2 linked regions of the Homo sapiens genome follow. The protein of the gene in region 1 purifies or fractionates together with the protein of each later gene. This does not show direct contact. Each region holds a gene or a part of one and is shown in the gene's direction. Other genes may lie near its edges.

Region 1 (3,455 bases):
AGGTTGTTGAAACACAGGGGCAGGAAGATGAATTGAGAAGCAGTTTCAATAGTCCAGGTAATACAAGATTTCCACCTGGTTTAGGGTTGTGGTAGTTGGGATAAGGAGTGGATGAATTAGAAAGAGAATGAAGTGCAGAATCTGTAGGACTTGCTAGATTGGATATTGACTGTGAGAGAAATGAATTAATGAAATCAAACCTTAGGTTTCTGACTTGAGCCTGGATTCCATTCACCAAACATGAGAGAGTGGAGGAGGATGGAGTTAGAAGAGGAGCAGGGTGAGATCAGAATGTCATTTAGGATCTGTCAAGCCAAAGATGCCTGTGATCCATCCAAGAGATGTTAATCATTGAGACTCAGGATACTAAGTTCTGTATACTAGAGAACGCTACACCTGAACACCTGAGTTGTTTGTTTGTTTCTTTCTTTCTTTCTCTTTCTTTCTTTCTTTCTTTCTTTCTTTCTTTCTTTCTTTCTTTCTCTTTCTTTCTTTCTTTCTTCCTTTCCTTTCCTTCCTTCCTTCCTTCCTTCCTTCCTTCCTTCCTTCCTTCCTTCCTTCCTTCTTTCTTTCTTTCTTTCTTTCTTTCTTTCTTTCTTTCTTTCTTTCTTTTCTTTCTTTGACAGAGTCTTACTCTGTCACCCAGGTTGGAGTACAATGGCACAAACTTGGCTCACTGCAGCCTCTGCCTCCCAGGTTCAAGCAATTCTCCTGCCTCAGCCTCCTGAGTAGCTGAATTACAGGCACCCGCCACCACACCAGGCTAATTTTTGTATTTTTAGTAGAGACAAGGTTTCACCATGTTGGCCAGGCCGGTCTCAAACTCCTAGCCTCAGGTGATCCACCCACCTCAGCCTCCCAAAATGTTGGAATTACAGGTGTGAGCTACTGCGCCCAGCCTACACCTGAGTTTTAAATGGCAATTAAAGCCATTGGAGTAGATGTGTTTTTATTGGCCATTATGCAGAATTATAAAAAAAAAATGAAGTTTAGAAAAATCCCTGAGGAATATCAACATGTAAGATACTGACAGAGGAGGAGCCAACTGCAGTTACTGGTGAGGCAGGTAAGAGAGAAACCAACACACTTTATGTTTCAGAAGTAAATAGATGAGTATTTTAGAAAGGATGGAATATTGTTACATGTTAAAGATAAATGAAGAGAAAAAAGATAAAGTTAAGTCATTTCTGATTATAGAGATTCTAATTATAGATATTTGTGGTATAGAGATGATTATTATAATGTCAGTTAAATAATTTTCGCAGAACACTCAGCAGACCAAGTGTCACAGAAATATCTCCATTTTAAAATTCAGATTTTAAAGGATACTGTTGTTTTTCCATTAAAGATACTGGAGACAGAGCATGATGGGACAAAATCAAACCAGCATCTCAGACTTCCTGCTCCTGGGCCTGCCCATCCAACCAGAGCAGCAAAACCTGTGCTATGCCCTGTTCTTGGCCATGTATCTTACCACCCTCCTGGGGAACCTCCTCATCATTGTCCTCATTCGACTGGACTCCCATCTCCACACGCCTATGTATTTGTTTCTCAGCAACTTGTCCTTCTCTGACCTCTGCTTCTCTTCCGTGACCATTCCCAAGTTGTTACAGAACATGCAGAACCAGGACCCATCCATCCCCTATGCGGACTGCCTGACCCAAATGTACTTCTTCCTGTTATTTGGAGACCTGGAGAGCTTCCTCCTTGTGGCCATGGCCTATGACCGCTATGTGGCCATCTGCTTCCCCCTGCACTACACCGCCATCATGAGCCCCATGCTCTGTCTCGCCCTGGTGGCGCTGTCCTGGGTGCTGACCACCTTCCATGCCATGTTACACACTTTACTCATGGCCAGGTTGTGTTTTTGTGCAGACAATGTGATCCCCCACTTTTTCTGTGATATGTCTGCTCTGCTGAAGCTGGCCTTCTCTGACACTCGAGTTAATGAATGGGTGATATTTATCATGGGAGGGCTCATTCTTGTCATCCCATTCCTACTCATCCTTGGGTCCTATGCAAGAATTGTCTCCTCCATCCTCAAGGTCCCTTCTTCTAAGGGTATCTGCAAGGCCTTCTCTACTTGTGGCTCCCACCTGTCTGTGGTGTCACTGTTCTATGGAACCGTTATTGGTCTCTACTTATGCTCATCAGCTAATAGTTCTACTCTAAAGGACACTGTCATGGCTATGATGTACACTGTGGTGACCCCCATGCTGAACCCCTTCATCTACAGCCTGAGGAACAGAGACATGAAGGGAGCCCTGAGCAGAGTCATTCATCAGAAGAAAACTTTCTTCTCTCTCTGATGATAACACTTGGAGCTATTACATAGTTTATCCAGTAAAATATTGATATTAATATTGGAATATTATTCTAAATTATTTCCTCACCATCCTTTTGTTGAAATGGCATCGTACATAATTTTTCAATATGTAGTGGAGATGAAGCATAGCTGAGTAGTTGAACTAGGGAAGAGGGTCTTGGTGACCTGGCTAAGACTTCCTGTTTGTCTTCCCAAGGTGATCTTGGAAAAATGTAGTTTAAGAACAACTGTTTTAAATGGTCTTCATGCCCCACATTCTTAAATTATCACAGGATTTTGTTATGTTACTCAGAATTTTGCTTTGATTGTAGAATCATTTTTGTTTAATTAAAAAAATTTTTAAATTTTTTGTTTATTTTTATTTTCTATTTCGCACAGGGTCTCACTCTGTTGCCCAGGCTGGAGTGCAGTGGCACAATCGTGGCTCACTGTAACCTCAACCTTCTGGACTCAAGGGATTCTCCTGCCTCAGCCTCCCAAGTAGCTAGGACTACAGGCATGCACCACTACGCCCAGCTAATTTTAAGATTTTTTTGTAGAGATGAGGTCTCCCTAAGTTTCTCAGGCTGGTCTTGAATTCCTGGCCTCAAGTGATCCTCCCACCTTGGACTTTCAAAGTGCTGGGATTACAGGTGTGAGGCACCATGCCTGGCTTGTGGAATCATTTTATTTTTATTTATTTATTTATTTATTTATGAGACTGAGTCTTGCTCTGTCACCCAGGCTGGAGTGCAATGGCATGATCTTGGCTCACTGCAACCCCCGCCTCCTGGGTTCAAGCAATTCTCCTGCCTCAGCCTCCCGAGTAGCTGGGATTACAGGCAAATGCCACCACGTCGGGCTAATTTTTATATTTTTAGAGATGGGGTTTCACCATGTTGGCCAGGCAGGTCTTGAACTCCTGACCTTGTGATCCGCTCACCTAGGCCTTCCAAAGTGCATGGATAGAATCATTTCTAAATAGTGCTCTATAATCTTAGGTTAGTGCTAAATAAGATCTAAACAGCTTAACCTCCCAGCCGCCCTTTGAGTGTCTCCTACATATTCTCCCTGCACAAATTTTCACACCATTTTACCTCTTCTCCCTCCTCCTGATTTATTTTCACATCTCCATAGACTTTTCTCACCT
Region 2 (3,826 bases), on another chromosome or scaffold:
TCTCTAGGCAGTCACAAGCCTTTTAGGAAAATGGAGAAGGCATGTGAGGCATAATTACACAGACAAGCACATCCCAGATGATTCTGGTCTTAACCCTAACTCAGTCATTCCCAAAATTTGCAGCACATTGGAATCATCACCAGGGGAACTTTAAAAACAACCCTCAGGCTGGGCGTGGTGACTGACACCTGTAATCCTAGCACTTTGGGAGGCCAAGGCGGGTAGATTGCCTGAGCTCAGGAGTTTGAGACCAGCCTGGGCAACACGGTGAAACCCCATTTCTAGTAAAATACAAAAAAATTAGCCAAGCGTGGTGGCGTGCACCTGTAATCCCAGCTACTTGGGAGGCTGAGACAGAATAGCTTGAATCCGGGAAGCGGAGGTTGCAGTGAGCCGAGATTGTGCCATTTTACTCCAGCCTGGGCGACAGAGCAAGACTCTGTCTCAAAAAAAAAACAAAACAAAACACACAAAAAGACAACAAAAAACACTCCTCATGCCCCAAGTCATACCCGATGCCAATTAAATCAGAATGTCTCAAGTTGGAAGTTAGGCAGTTTTTAAAGCTCCTCAGGTGATTGCAGTGTGCAGAAAGTTTGAGAACCACTGCTTAATTGAATGTAGGAGGATGAACTGCTTCTATTTGGTGGGACCTTGGGCAAGTCAGTTTTAAGCCTTGGTTCCCATATCTGTAAACTGGGTGTTGGATTAAATGTCATGTAAGGTTCCGTGGTCCTTTTCAGCATATAACTTCAAATTCTGTAATGTTAAAATCAATTTGGACATGAAAATGTTTGAAGCACTATAGAAGTATCCATCTTAGATGCTAATGTTACAGACTTTTTAAAAAAGTGCTAACATTGTATGGACTTAAAATTCAGATTTGCCTTCCCTCAATTATTTTGAGCCTCAGTTTAGAGACTGAGGGCAAATGGAAGCATATAACTTACCTAAGACAACTCCTTGTTTCCTGATACACAACATCTGTGGGTAATTTAGGAATACAGTAACATATATCTGAAAAGTCGTGTCTGTTCACTAATATTTTACTTAAACCAATGTGGAAATACTTGCCATTAATATTACACTTTGTAGTTTTATGCTGCATTGTTAGCACTGCTTATTTCAGGATAGCTACACCTATCATTGGTTTTGTGTGCACTTATTTACTAATAAATTTTCTACTAATGATGCAAAATTGATCATAAATGATTTTATTTGGTATAAAACACTTTTATTTACTTTAAGGGGAAATAATGAAAGATGGGTGGGTAGGTGATAGTTAATTAAATCAACTGAAATGCAGAGCCTAACAGCTTAAAAAGCAAAAAATAAAAATAACCAAAAAACCAAATAGTTTAAATTTAAGCATGTATACAAATAGGTAGAACTTGTATAAAATGAAAGGTTCTATGGGCAGAAGAGCAAATGGGGATATATGTAATTATTTATATATTATAATAGTCCACAGAAACATGTATTTTAACAGCATATTACTGGGTTTTTTTTTTTTTTTGAGACGGAGTCTCGCTCTGTCGCCCAGGCTGGAGTGCAGTGGCACGATCTCGGCTCACTGCAAGCTCTGCCTCCCGGGTTCACGCCATTCTCTTGCCTCAGCCTCCTGAGTAGCTGGGAATACAGGCGCCTGCTACCACGCCCGGCTAATTTTTTGTATTTTTAGTAGAGACGGGGTTTCACCGTGTTAGCCAGGATGGTCTCGATCTCCTGACCTCGTGATCCACCTGCCTCGGCCTCCCAAAGTGCTGGGATTACAGGCGTGAGCCACTGCGCCCGGCCTTACTTAGCATTTTGGTTCGTGTATTTTTGCTGAAAGGAACTAAAACAAGGGGAAAGTACCCATATGGTACTGTTCTGAACTAGAGGATTTCAGGGCCGCTAGGAGGGTTCCTCCCTTCCCTCATTTAAAAAATGTCTTCAGGCCTAACAAATGTTTAAATCAGTTGTTAAAAATAATTTTTTTTTCCCTTCACAGTGTGACCTTAGCAATATATTACCACATAAAGAACAGGTGAGCTCCTTTAAAACCTGTCTTGTTATTCCAGCTAATTACTTTGCATGATATCAAGTTCAGTATTAGGTCATAACTATAGACATCATAAGCTATAGATTGCTATTACAGTATTGAACTGAATCATTTGTGGTTTTTCTGGTCCCCAAGATGGTTTCAATTATTAAATTACTGAGGATCCCAAAGAGTATTTGTTTATGTTGGTTATATTGATATTTATTGCATTAGAAATTGAAGTTGAGAATTTAAAAAAAAAAACCCTATATTTAGTTTCAGTTTCTCAACGTTGGCACTGTTGATATTTTGAGCTACATAAGTCTTTGTTGTGGGGACTGTCCTGTGTATTGTAGGATATTTAACAGCTGTCCCAGGTTGTGACAACAAAAATATAACCCCTGACTGAGAATCATATTGTTAACATAAATAATATTTTTTCATGAAAAATAACTCTCTTCTACAACAACGAAGTTGAGTAAAATGTGTCATGTATTTATATATATACAACTCTCTAGTGTCCAGCTTAACAGAAAACAGCTGGATTCTCATCTCTGTCTTTGCAATTAGTTTTTTTTTTTAATTTCAACTTTTATTTTAGATACAGTGAGTACATGTGTAGGTGTATTACGTGGCTAATAGTGCACCCTGGTAGTGAGCTGTAATTTGTTTTGAAGAAGTGATAAGAAGATGACCTAGCCTCACGCAAATATATAGTTGGTAAAAGGTATATTTTTAAAGCTTTCAGATGGTTGTGGGTATTCTTTATTTTTTAGTTTATTTTTATTTGGTTTTTTTTGAGACGGAGTCTTGTCTGTTGCCCAGGCTGGAGTGCAGTGGCACGATCTCGGCTCACTGCAACCTCCACTTCCCAAGTTCAAGCGATTCTCCTGCCTCGGGCTCCCGAGTAGGTGGGGTTACAGGCGCATGCCACCACGCCTGGCTAATTTTTGTATTTTTAGTAGAGATGGAGTTTTGCCATGTTGACCAGGCTGGTCTTGAACTCCCGACCTCAGGTGATCCACCCGCCTCAGCCTCCCAAAGTGCTGGGATTACAGGCATGAGCCACCATACCCGGCCAGTATTCTTTAATACTACCCAACACTCCACAAGTGCTAGTTTCTTAAAATGGTTACAGTGGAATTTTGTGTTATCAATGAATTTTTTATTAGTACTCACCCATCTGTCTTGTACAATATATGTATCATTTCCCCTTACTTGGTTTTCTAATATTATGCATTGGTTATATGGAAAATATTGGTTCACATCTCTTCTTTCTTTTTTTTTTCTTTTTTTTGAGACAGAGTCTCATTCCATCACCCAGGCTGGAGTGCAGTGGTGCAGTCTCAGCTCACTGCAACCTCCGCCTCCCGGGTTCAAGCGATTCTCCTGTCTCAACCTCCCAAGTAGCTGAGATTACAAATACATACCACCATACCAGCTAATTTTTTGTATTTTTAGTAGAGACAGTGTTTCACCATGTTGCCCAGGCTGGTCTTGAATTCCTGAGCTCAAGCAATCCGCACACCTCAGCCTCCCAAAGTGCTAGGATTACAGGCGTGAGCCACCATACCCAGCCTGGTTCACATTTCTTGACAGTGGCAAAGCTCACTTTTGTTAGTATCACCACCAATTGTATTAAAAAATCTTTAAGTATTGAGAAGCTGTTAAACTCACATAATAAGGTACAAGTTTCTCCAAATCCTGATTTTTAGTTTGAAAGCTTGAATTTTATCATTGCAACAAATAGTGTTATTTTCTTGAAGTGACAGGCTTCATTTTTTTAAAACTTTTTATTTATTT

The links.
Region 2: the proteins of OR1E1 (region 1) and CCNYL1 purify together in Homo sapiens (affinity purification with mass spectrometry; one large-scale study listed by BioGRID and IntAct). This does not show direct contact.

Annotation. Positions count from the first base shown.
Region 1 is NC_000017.11:3,396,320-3,399,774, reverse strand, and holds OR1E1 (olfactory receptor 1E1), read left to right. Parts: upstream 1-1,364; coding exon 1,365-2,309; 3' UTR 2,310-2,671; downstream 2,672-3,455. UniProt on the Homo sapiens protein: Odorant receptor.
Region 2 is NC_000002.12:207,735,418-207,739,243, forward strand, and holds part of CCNYL1 (cyclin-Y-like protein 1), read left to right. Parts: intron 1-1,993; coding exon 1,994-2,029; intron 2,030-3,826. UniProt on the Homo sapiens protein: Key regulator of Wnt signaling implicated in various biological processes including male fertility, embryonic neurogenesis and cortex development. Activates the cyclin-dependent kinase CDK16, and promotes sperm maturation.